3 linked regions of the Homo sapiens genome follow. The protein of the gene in region 1 purifies or fractionates together with the protein of each later gene. This does not show direct contact. Each region holds a gene or a part of one and is shown on either strand. Other genes may lie near its edges.

Region 1 (3,649 bases):
ACAAATGTACAATCAGGTTTTATACCGAGACATTCAGTTCCCAGGGTCAGGCAGGAGACAGTGGCCTTCCTCTCTCTCAACTGCAAGAGGCTTTCCTCTTTTACCAATCCACCTCAGCACAGACCCTTTACGGGTGTTGGGCTGGGGGACGGTCAGGTCTTTCTCATCCCACGAGGCCATATTTCAGACTATCCCACGGGGAGAAACCTTGGACAATACTCTGTGTTCAAGGGCAGAGGTCCCTGCAGCTTTCTGCAGTGCATCGTGCCCCTGGTTTATTGAGACTAGAGACTGGCGATGACTTTTACCAAGTATACTGCTTGGAAACATTGTGTTAACAAGGCACTTCCTGCACAGCCCTAGATCCCTTAAACCTTGATTTCATACAACACAGGTTTTTGTGAGCTCCAGATTGGGTCAAAGTGGCTGGGTCAAAGCTACAAATTAACAACATCTCAGCAAAGCAATTGTTCAAAGTACAGGTCTTTTTCAAAATGGAGTCTCTTATGTCTTTCCTTTCTATATAGACACAGTAACAGTCTAATCTCTCTTTTCCCTACACATCTGGCTAATTTTTGTATTTTAAGTAGAGACGGGGTCTCGCCATGTTTGCCAGGCTGGACTCGAACTCCTGACCTCAAGTGATCCGCCCCCGCCCCCCCCCACCCCCAAAACTTTGGCCTCCCAAAGTGCTGGGATTACAGGTGCAAGCCCCCTCACCTGGCCGGGAATCTCATGCAGTGAGCATTTATAAAATAATGACTGTCACTTGCTGAAGGCGTTCCACACGCCAGACACTGGGTGGAGCCACTTATGGAGAACATGACAGAGGTCCCTTGGTGTGATGTGATGATGTCTGTGTTTCAGTTGGGGTATGTGAGTGAGCTCAGACAAGGTTGCCTGAGATCATTCAGTCAGGGGCACGTGGGGTGAGAGTGGGCCCACAGGACTGACCGTGCCGCTTCTCACCCTCAGGGACTATGTCACCGGTGGGGCTTGCCCCAGCAAGGCCACCATCCCTGGGAAGACGGTCATCGTGACGGGTGCCAACACAGGCATCGGGAAGCAGACCGCCTTGGAACTGGCCAGGAGAGGTAAAATCTCCCCTGCTTTGGCTCTCAGAGAGATATCTGTACATCCATGCTCACTGCAGCATTATTCACAGTCCGGAGGTGGAAGGAACCCAGGCACCCATCCACAGATGAACAGGGAAACAGAATGTGGCTTCTATAGACAGGGGCATATGATTCAGCCTTAAAAAGGAAGGGCATTCTGGCCGGGCGCGGTGGTGCACGCCTGTAATCAGTACTTTGGGAGGCCAAAGCTGGCGGATCACGAGGTCAGGAGTTCGAGACCAGCCTAACCAACATGGTGAAACCCCCTCTCTACTAAAAATACAAAAATTAGCCAGGAGTTGTGGTGGGCACCTGTAGTCCCAGCTGCTTGGGAGGCTGAAGCAGGAGAATCGCTTGAACCTGAGAGGCAGGGGTTGCAGTGAGCAGAGATGGCGCCACGGCACTCCAGCCTGGGTGACAGAGTGAGACTCAAAAACAAAACAAAACAAAGCAAAACAAAAAAAAGGGCATTGAAACAGATGAACCTTGAGGACATTCCATGAAGTGAAATAAGCCAGTCGACAGAAGAGCAAATACGGTATGATTCCACTTACAGGAGCTACCTACAGTTAAATTCATAGAGAAGTTGGAATGGTGCTTGCCAGGGGTCAGGAGGGGAGGGGAGAATGGGGAGTTACTGTTTAATGGAAACGGAAGTTTAGTTTGGCAAGATGAAACAATTTGAGAGATGGATGGTTGTAATGGTTGCACAACATTAGGAATTATTATTATTGTTTTTTTTTTTTTGAGATGGAGTTTTGCTCTTGTCGCCCAGGCTGGAGTGCAGTGGCATGATCTTGGCTCACTGCAACCTTCGCCTCCCGGGTTCAAGCAATTCTCCTGCCTCAGCCACCCGAGTAGCTGGGATTACAGGCATGCAACACCACACCCAGCTAAGTTTGTAATGTGTTGGCCAGGCTGGTCTTGAACTCCTGACCTCAGGTGATCCACCTGCCTTGGTCTCCCAAAGTGCTGGGATTACAGGTGTGAGCCACCATGCCCGGCCCAGCCATAAATGTTTTTAATACCAATGAACTGGACACTTAAAAATGGCTAAGAGGGCGGGTCTCGGTGGCTCACATCTATAATTCCAGCACTTTTGGAGGCTGAGGCAGGAGGATCACTTGAGGCCAGGGGTTCCAGACCAGCCTGGACACCATAGCAACACCCCCATCTCTACCAGAGTTAGCCAGGCATGCTGGCACAGGTGGTACCTATAGTCCCAGGTCACTTGAGCCTAGGAGTTCAAGGCTGAATGAGCTGTGATGGCGCCAGCACTCCAGCCGCGGCAGCAGAGTGAGACTGACTCAAAAAAAAAAAAATAATAATAAACAAAAAGAAAAGGGGGTTAAGATGATAAATTTTAAGTGATTTGTATTTTACCACAACAAAAAAAATTGGAGGCTGGGCATTGTGGCTTATTTGTAATCCCAGTACTTTGGGAGGCCGCGGGGTGGATCACCTGAGGTCAGAAGTTCAAGACTAGCTTGGCTAACATGGTGAAACCGCTGTCTCTACTAAAAATAAAAAAATAAAAAATTAGCTAGTTGTGGTAGGTGCCTGTAATCCCAGCTACTCGGGAGGCTGAGGCAGGAGAATTGCTTGAACCCAGGAGGTGGAGGTTGCAGTGAGCCGAGATTGCGCCACCGCACTCCAGCCTGGGTGACAGAGTGAGACTCCATCTAAAAAAAAAAAAAAAAGGAGAGGATGGGGAATCCTCTTGCCTTGGCCTCCCAAAGTGCTGGAATTACAGGTGTGAGCCACCGTGCCCGACCAATTCAGTGATGTTTAGTATAGTCACAGAATGATGCAACCATCTTTAAAATCAATCTTAGAACATCTGTTACCCTAGAAAGAAACCTGCTCACTGTAACTATCAAGCTGTAATTCCCTCTCCCCACCCCCTGCCCTAGAAAACCAAGAATCTATTTTCTTTCTCTATGGATTTGCCTATTCTGGGCGTTTCATAGGTGTGAAATCATATACATAGAATTCATGTAAATGGGATTGTACGCTGTGTGGTCTTTCGTGTCTGGTTTCTTTCCCCGAGCACAGTGTTTCTGACGGTCATCCTTGCTGTAGCATGAGCCAGTGCTTCACTCCTTTTCACGGCCGTCTAATATTCCATCTCTATGGATGGACCACATTTTGTTGTCCCTTCATCCACAGATGGGCATTTGGTTGTTTCTACCTTTTGGCTTTTGTGAAGAATGCCGCAGTGAACATTGGTGGATGTGTTTTTGTGTAGACGTATGTTTTCATGTCTCTGGGGTCAGTACCCAGGAGTGGATTATTAATTTAAATCTTTTTCCATCCTGGGTTTTCAGGAGGCAACATCATCCTGGCCTGCCGAGACATGGAGAAGTGTGAGGCGGCAGCAAAGGACATCCGCGGGGAGACCCTCAATCACCATGTCAACGCCCGGCACCTGGACTTGGCTTCCCTCAAGTCTATCCGAGAGTTTGCAGCAAAGATCATTGAAGGTAGGAGAACGCTGGCCATGTGGGATGAGGACTGGGATAGGCGGCTCCCAG
Region 2 (4,263 bases), on another chromosome or scaffold:
TTTCTTCTCCCAGCTCAAGGAGGGAGGAGCGGCTCCCACCAGCAGGTCCAGTTTGGGCTTGTTCCATGCTGGGAGAGCGCCAGGACCTGTGCAGAGCCAGCAGGGATAGGACCTGTGGCTCCAGGAGGCCCCCACATGCTGCCCCTCAGCCACCTGCCAGCCCTGTTTTATGAGTATGTTTACCGTGGCTGTCACTTTGTCCCGGTCTGTCACAAAGGCACGGAATCCTTCCCCAAACAAGGTGCCAGCCGCCCTGTGGGGAAAGCAGTGGTGTGACCAGGAGGGAAACAAAGACCCACGCCACGTAGCAAGAACAGGTTGAGGGTGAGGCCTTGACACAGCAGCCTGGTCCTGCCAGGACAGGGGGGCAGTGTCCCCACCAAGGAGCCAGCCTACAGCGGCCAGACCTGGGAGAGCTGGAGAGCACCCTGGGACCAGCGACTCACACCTGTGGGGGCTCCATCTGCGGCCGGCCCGGGCCTCGGCAGCGCTCACCTGATGGACTCCAAGAAGGTCTGATGGTGCTTCTGCACGGACTCCTCCTGCTTCCGTAAATCCTCATTGACAAGTTGCTGAGAAGAAGCCGCAGAAAAAGAGAAAAGCCTTTAAAACCAGAAAAATGCTCAACACCAATCCAGAGGTTGCGTCCGCCCCAGGACCGCAGGGCTCCAAGCGTCCCGGGCACCTGGGGACCTGCAGACGCCGCACCCTGACACAGACACGGGTGACATCGGCCGGGACGGCAGTCACTGAGGGGATGGGTTCAGGGGCCCAAACTCCCCAGCGGCAGAAACAGCCCCCACTGTGGCTTCCCTGACAAGGGCCACTGCTGGCCGACCTCCCAACACCACTGCCCTGATTCAGGCTGGGCTTAAGGAAGCTTCTGTCTTCTGCCAATTAAACGTTAAAGCTACAATGCCCACAACAGGCAACACGTGAACCCCGCCTGTGAGCTCAGGACTGAAGGTGACCGGCCGGGCACCGTGGCTCACACCTGTAATCCCAGCACTTTGGGAGGCCGACGCAGGTGATCACTTGAGGTCAGGAGTTCAAAACTAGCCTGGCCAGCATGGTGAAACCCTGTCTCTAATAAAAATACAAAAATTAGCCGAGTATGGTGGTGGGTGCCTGTAATCCCAGCGACTTGGGAGGCTGAGGCAGGAGAATGGCTTGAACCCAGGAGGCAGAGGTTGCGGTGAGCTGAGATCGCACCATTGCACTCCAGCCTGGGCAACAGAGTGAGACTCCGTTTCAAAATAAATAAAATTAAAAAATCTTGCTGAGCTGGACGCGGTGGCTCACGCCTGTAATCCCAGCACTTTGGGAGGCTGAGGCAGGCGGAGATCAGGAAATCGACACCATCCTGGCTGACACGCTGAAACCCCATCTCTACTAAATATACAAAAAAAATTAGCTGGGCGTGGTGGCAGGTGCCTGTAGTCCCAGCTCCTCAGGAGGCTGAGGCAGGAGAATGGTGTGAACCCGGGAGGTGGAGCTTGCAGTGAGCCAAGGTCGCACCACTGCACTCCAGCCTGGGCGACAGAGCAAGACACCATCTCAAAAAAAAAAAAAATCCTGCTGAGTCAAAGAAATGAGGTGAGAATGTCAAGAAGATCCAGGCCCTCAGGACGACCAGACGCCCTCACCAACACCGGCCCTCCCTCTCGGGCGGCTCTGCGGCAGCGTCTCTCACCTCCCCTTGTTTCCTTCTGTGAAATGAGGCGCCCAAGCTTGGCCCTGGGCCCCACTGCTGCCCATGTACACACCCCCGGCCCTACCCACCGGCAGTAGCCCTACCAATCTCCACGCCCGAACCCCATGTGTGCCCCGGCCTCCCCGCCCACACCGGCCCCACTCACTTTGAGCTTGGACTGTTGCTCCAACTGCAGCGTCTGCTCCTGCATCTGCGCCAGATTCAGGGCGTCCTTTGACATGGCCTGCAGATGCAGGGACACGGAGGGCAGGTGTTAGGATACACGGATGCCGCTGGGCAGGCACGCACACCAGCCAAGGGGCTTTCTGGAATCCACGGCCACGCCTCGACCTCAAAGCCCCCAGCCCTGCCTCCCCATCCTCCTTCCTAGTCAGACCTGGCGTGACGATGCCCCATCCCCAGCACACGGCCTGATGCATTTGTGAGGTTTTATGCCCTCCAGGGATGGTCTTGGAGAGCCACATCAGGAAGGCCATCCCATGTGGACGGGAGGAGGCTCTTTCCCAATTCAACAGAAAGTCAGGCGATGGCTAAAGTGTCCATTTTTTCACGTTACACATGCTTTTTTTTTTTTTTTTTTTGAGACGGAGTCTCATTCTGGCCCAGGCTGGAGTGCAGTGGCATGATCTCTGCTTACTGCAAGCTCTACCTCTCGGGTTCACGTCACTCTCCTGCCTCAGCCTCCCGAGTAGCTGGGACTACAGGCGACCGCCACCACACCCGGCTAATTTTTGTAGTTTTAGTAGAGACGGTTTCACCGTGTTAGCCAGGATGGTCTCGATCTCCTGACCTCGTGATCCGCCCACCTCAGCCTCCCAAAGTGCTGGGATTACAGGTGTGAGCCACCGCGCCCGGCACATACCCTTTTCCTAAGCTTCCAATGGCTGTTGTCAGTGATCTGCTATCAAGAACGTGCGGGCAAGAAAATGAAAGAATAAGAATTAGATAGCAGCCAACAAGCTCAGGGTGACGAGGACAAGCATCTGACAACGTCCTCAGTTACATTTTGTTCCTAGTGGGGAACCGACACAGGTCAATGTTTGGGTGACCTGGGACAGAAGTACGTATTCTCTGAGCTGCTGAGGACTCAGCATCAGGTCTCAACATTTTCCGGGATGAGTTTTCCCATCACAAAATTTTACCATAAAAATCTTCTGGCCGGGCGCGGTGGCCCATTGAGAAAATATGCAGGACCTTGGGGAGTTAATCATGAAGGGGATTAAAGAATCCATGCCCGGAACCCAGAATCTTACCCGAATATTTAACATACAGCAAGGAAAAGATAAAGGGCCTGCGACATAATTTTTAGACAGATTAAAAGAACAAATGAGAAAATATGCTGGTCGAGGTGTCGAGGATCCTCTTGGGCAAGGAATTTGTCACTAACAGTTGGCCAGATATTAACCACAAATTACAAAAGAAAGAACTAGAAAAATAAGCCTGTAGAAGAGATTCTAAGAGAAAGGGAAAAAAATCTTAGAGGAAAGAGAAAGACTGACAGAAGGAACAGAGAAAGTCAGAGAGAGAGAGAGAGTCAGAGAGAGAGAGAGACAGAGTCAGAGAGACAGAGTCAAAGAGAGAGAAAGACTGACAGAGGGAACAGAGGAAGTCAGAGAGAGAGAGAGAGTCAAAGAGAGAGAGAGACAGGCAGAGACAGAGTCAGAGAGAGAGACAGAGTTAGAGAGTGAGACAGAGACAGACAGAGAGAGACAGAGTCAAAGAGACAGAGAGAGCCAGAGAGAGAGAGAGACAGAGTTAGAGAGAGAGAGAAAAGGAGAGATAGAAGTAGTCAAGAAAAAGCAATGTGCCCCATTCTTTTAAAAGCCAGAGTACGCCCGGCGTGGCAGCTCACCACGCCTGTAATCCCAGCACTTTGGGAGGCCGAGGCGGGCAGTTCAGGAGGTCAGGAGATCATCCTGGTTAACATGGTGAAACCCTGTCTCTACTAAAAATACAAAAAATTAGCCGGGTGCGGTGGTGGATGCCTGCAATCCCAGCTATGCAGGAGGCTGAGGCAGGAGAATTGCTTGAACCCAGGAAAGACAGAGGTTGCAGTGAGCCGACACAGTGCCACTGCACTCCAGCCTCGACGACGAATGAGACTCTGTCTCAAAAAAAAAAAAAAAAACAACTTACCGAAAGGCATGGAGGCCACTGACAACTATCCTTAATGTGGTAACCCACAGACGGCCGTAGTGCATTACAGGACGACACTTATTTAAAGATAGTTCCTCCCAGGTGATTCGAGGAAAAAGACACAATGGGTAATCAGTAACTAACAGGAAAAACTCTTGTGGAAATAGAGTTAAGAGGCCGGGCTCTGTGGCTCACACCTGTAATCCCTGCACTCTGGGAGGCTGAGGCGAGTGGATCACCTGAGGTCAGGATCACCTGAGGTCAGGAGTTCGACAGCAGCCTGGCCAACATGGTGAAACCCCATCTCTACTAAAAATACAAAAATTAGCTGGCCGTAGTGGCAAGCACCTGTAATCCCAACTACTCAGCATGCTGAGGCAGGAGAATCGCTTAAACTCAGGAGGTGGAGGCTG
Region 3 (3,649 bases), on another chromosome or scaffold:
TCCTCTCACTTCAGCCTCTTGAGTATCTGGGACCACAGGTGCTCGCCACCATGCTTGGCTAAGTTTTTGTATTTTTGGTAGAGACGGGGCTTCACCATGTTGCCCAGGCTGGTCTCAAACTCCTGAGCTTGGGTGATCCACTCACCTTGGCCTCCCAAAGTGCTGGGATTACAGGGGTGAGCCACCATGCCTGGCTGAGAAATTCTTTCTTTTCTAATGTAATTTTTAATTCCAGTCTTTGCAAAGTCAAGCTGTATGTATCTTTAGTCATAGGACAATATTATTTCATTATAGACATATTCAGGTTTAGAAACTCTGCATGCCTTTTGGAAGAATTCGCCTCTCCTTTGGTTCCTCTCTATTGCATGATATTATTTAAGTTACTTTTTACAGCAAATTAAGATAATCTGATATCTGTTTTCTTGAGACTAAGTAAAACAAACAAAATTAGGACCTTGGAAGAATTACATAATTACACAGGTAACCTTGCTTAAGAGTATTTTATAGTAGCCAGGCCTAGTTTACCCAGTCTATCCAGAAAGTGATTCTTACTATGTTTGGGTTTATAGTAGAAGAAGAAAATATTGGACAAAAAGCAGTATTGACAGGGAGTCACACATACCCTCAACTTTGGGGAGCAGTACATATTAATAGAGTTGTTCTTGTCTTATATCACAACTAAATAATAAGACATTTATTAGAACTGTAGAGTCAGCCTCAGCAATTAGTACTGTTAACTGGGATTTTGAGGTTTATCTGTTTTCTACTATCTTTCTCTAATTAATTTTCAAACTTTTATCACTTATTCATAGCTTAACATACTTCACAACTTCTTTCTTTCATAGGCTGTGGCCCAGTCTGTCTATGCAATGTAGATACTGTTTTGTGTGTTTTCTGGAATTTAATACATACATATAGAAATAATTGCTTTTTTTCTCTCCTTTGCAATAAACGGACATGCATATAGACGGTCATCACGACTAATTATTCTGTATTGCTTTCAGGATAAGCTGCTGCAGGCAAAGAAAGAAATTGAAATGCACTCTATTAATGACAAACAGGTAAATCTCTGTCTTCAGAATGCATTTTCTGTATAACTCAGCACAGCTGTATAAAGGAAAAACAGAGTTACTTCACCTGTGAATAGTTAATTGAAAGCATATATGTACTGTTTTTTAAAAGGTGGAATTGTTTGAATGGTCTAGTAACTCAGAATATCACACACACGCAAAATGAATAGACTCCCACACACATTCATATCTACAAATGGTCAAATAACAGAATGTTTTACTGGCAAATAATTTCATTTTAATTTTTTTTTTAATGAACTTTATACAAATGCTTAAGAGGAAAGGAATATTTAAAATTTATTTGGTTATGGAATTTTTGATGAATAAAATGCTATTTATATTTCAGTATAAAACATAATAGCAAATTAATAATCACACACCCATCACCCAGCCTAAGAAGTAGAAATGATCAGGGTCTCTGAAGCCCCCACAGCAGCCTTGTCCCTCTTTTCTTGTTCCTAGAGGGGCAAATGCCAACCCGATTTTTGGTGTTAATCCTTTCTTTTTCTTTTCTTTTTTCTTTCCTTTTTTTTTTTTTTTTTTTTTTTGAGGCAGTGTCTCAATCTGTCATCCAGGCTGGAGTGCAGGGGTGCGATCTCAGCTCACTGCAGCCTCGACCTCCTGGGCTCAAGCAGTCCTCCCACCTCAGCCTCCCTAGTAGCTGAGATTATAGACACGTGCCATCATGCATGGCTAATTTTTGTATTTTTGGTAGAGATGGGGTTTCGCCATGTTGCCCAGGCTGGTCTTCAACTCCTGGGCTCAAGCAGTCCGCCTACCTCTGCCTCCCAAAGTGCTGGTATTATAGGAGTGAGCCACTGTGCCCTGCCTCTTTTTCTTTTTAATTTTACCATATATGCACATAACTCTAAATAATAATATATTGTTTAGTTCTTTTTTTTTTTTTTTTTTGAGACAGAGTCTCTCTCTGTCACCCAGGCTGGAGTGCAGTGGTGCCATCTTGGCTCACTGCAACCTCCACCTCTCGGGTTCAAGCGATTCTCCTGCCTCAGCCTCCTGAGTAGCTGGGATTACAGGTGTGTGCCACCACACCCGGCTAATTTTTTTTGTATTTTTAGTAGAGACAGGGTTTTACCATGTTTGTCAGGCTAGTCTCAAACTCCTGACCTCAGGTGATCTGCCTGCCTTGGCCTCCCAAAGTCCTGTGATTATGGGCGTGAGCCACCATGCCTGGCCAATATACTTAGTTCTACTTCTTTTATTATATCATTCTTATTTTTTAACAGCTTTATGAGATATAATTTATATACCATACAGTTGACCCATTTAAAATATATAATTCAATGATTTTTAATGTATTCATAGAGTTGTGCAACTGTCATCAAAATCAATTTTAGAATGTTTTCCTCACCCCGTGAAGAATCTCCATGTGTATTAGCAGTCACTTGCCATTTCCTCCCAGCCTCTTCTCAGCTAGGCAGTCACTCATCTACTTTCTTTCTCTATAGATTTGTATAACTTCCTTCTTTATGCTTCTTATGCAACTTGATTTCTTCACTCAATATTATTATTATTTATTTCTTATTTATTTATTTATTTTTGAGATGGAGTCTCGCTCTGTTGCCCAGTCTGGAGTGCAGTGGCACAATCTCAGCTCACTGCAACCTCTGCCTCCTGGGTTCAAGCCTCAGCTTCCTGGGTAGTTGGGATTACAGGCGCGCGTCACTACGCCCAGCTAATTTTTGTATTTTTAGTAGAGACAGGGTTTCACCATGTTGATCAGGCTGGTCTCGAACTCCCAACCTCGTGATCCGCCCGCCTCAGCCTCTGAAAGTGCTGGGATTACAGGTGTGAGCCACCATTCCCAGACCACTCAATATTATTCTTTAGGCCAGGTGCGGTGGCTCATGCCTGTAATCCCAACATTTTGAGAGGCCGAGACGGGCAAATCAGTTGAAGGTAGGTGTTTGAGATCAGCCTGGACAAAGTGGTGAAACCCTGTCTCTACTAAAAATATAAAAAGTTAGCTGCACCTGTAACCCCAGCTACTCAGGAGGGAGGCTGAGGCAGGAGAATCACTTGGATCTGGGAGGCAAAGCTTGAGGTGAGCAGAGATTGCACCGCTGTACTCCAGCCTGGGTAACAGAGGGAGACTCCATCTCAAAAAAAAATATATATATATATATATATATATGTATGTATGTATGTATGTATATATATGTGTATATATATATATAATTTTAAAAATTCATTTATGTTGCTGCAAAAAGTTGGAGTAAATTTTTTTTTTTTTACTGCTGCGTAGTATTCTATTGTATGTATAGACTACATTTTGTTCATCAGTTCAGCAATTGGTGGATATTTAGTTTGTTCCCAGTATTTTTGTTAGTTTGTTTTGTTTTTTACTATTAGAAAAGCTTTCAGTATTCTCTTTGTGCACGTGTGCAAGAATGGTACATACCCAGAAATGGAATTGCAGAGCTGTAGTGTATGCAGTTCTTCAACCTCACCAAAGTGGTTAAGCTCCCATAAGTAGGAATGCGGTTTCTGTTGCGCCACATCCCTGCCAATACTTGGTATTGACAGACTTTTTACTTTTTGCCTTTCTGATGAGTTTT

The links.
Region 2: the proteins of RDH13 (region 1) and ATAD3C purify together in Homo sapiens (affinity purification with mass spectrometry; one large-scale study listed by BioGRID and IntAct). This does not show direct contact.
Region 3: the proteins of RDH13 (region 1) and KDSR fractionate together in Homo sapiens (co-fractionation; one large-scale study listed by BioGRID). This does not show direct contact.

The regions. Positions count from the first base shown.
Region 1 is NC_000019.10:55,056,602-55,060,250, reverse strand, and holds part of RDH13 (retinol dehydrogenase 13 isoform 1 precursor), read left to right. Parts: intron 1-975; coding exon 976-1,094; intron 1,095-3,442; coding exon 3,443-3,598; intron 3,599-3,649. UniProt on the Homo sapiens protein: Retinol dehydrogenase with a clear preference for NADP. Oxidizes all-trans-retinol, but seems to reduce all-trans-retinal with much higher efficiency. Has no activity toward steroids.
Region 2 is NC_000001.11:1,448,355-1,452,617, reverse strand, and holds the start of ATAD3C (ATPase family AAA domain-containing protein 3C), read right to left. Parts: upstream 2,930-4,263; 5' UTR 1,935-2,929; coding exon 1,860-1,934; intron 573-1,859; coding exon 496-572; intron 254-495; coding exon 184-253; intron 1-183.
Region 3 is NC_000018.10:63,357,148-63,360,796, reverse strand, and holds part of KDSR (3-ketodihydrosphingosine reductase), read left to right. Parts: intron 1-1,004; coding exon 1,005-1,061; intron 1,062-3,649.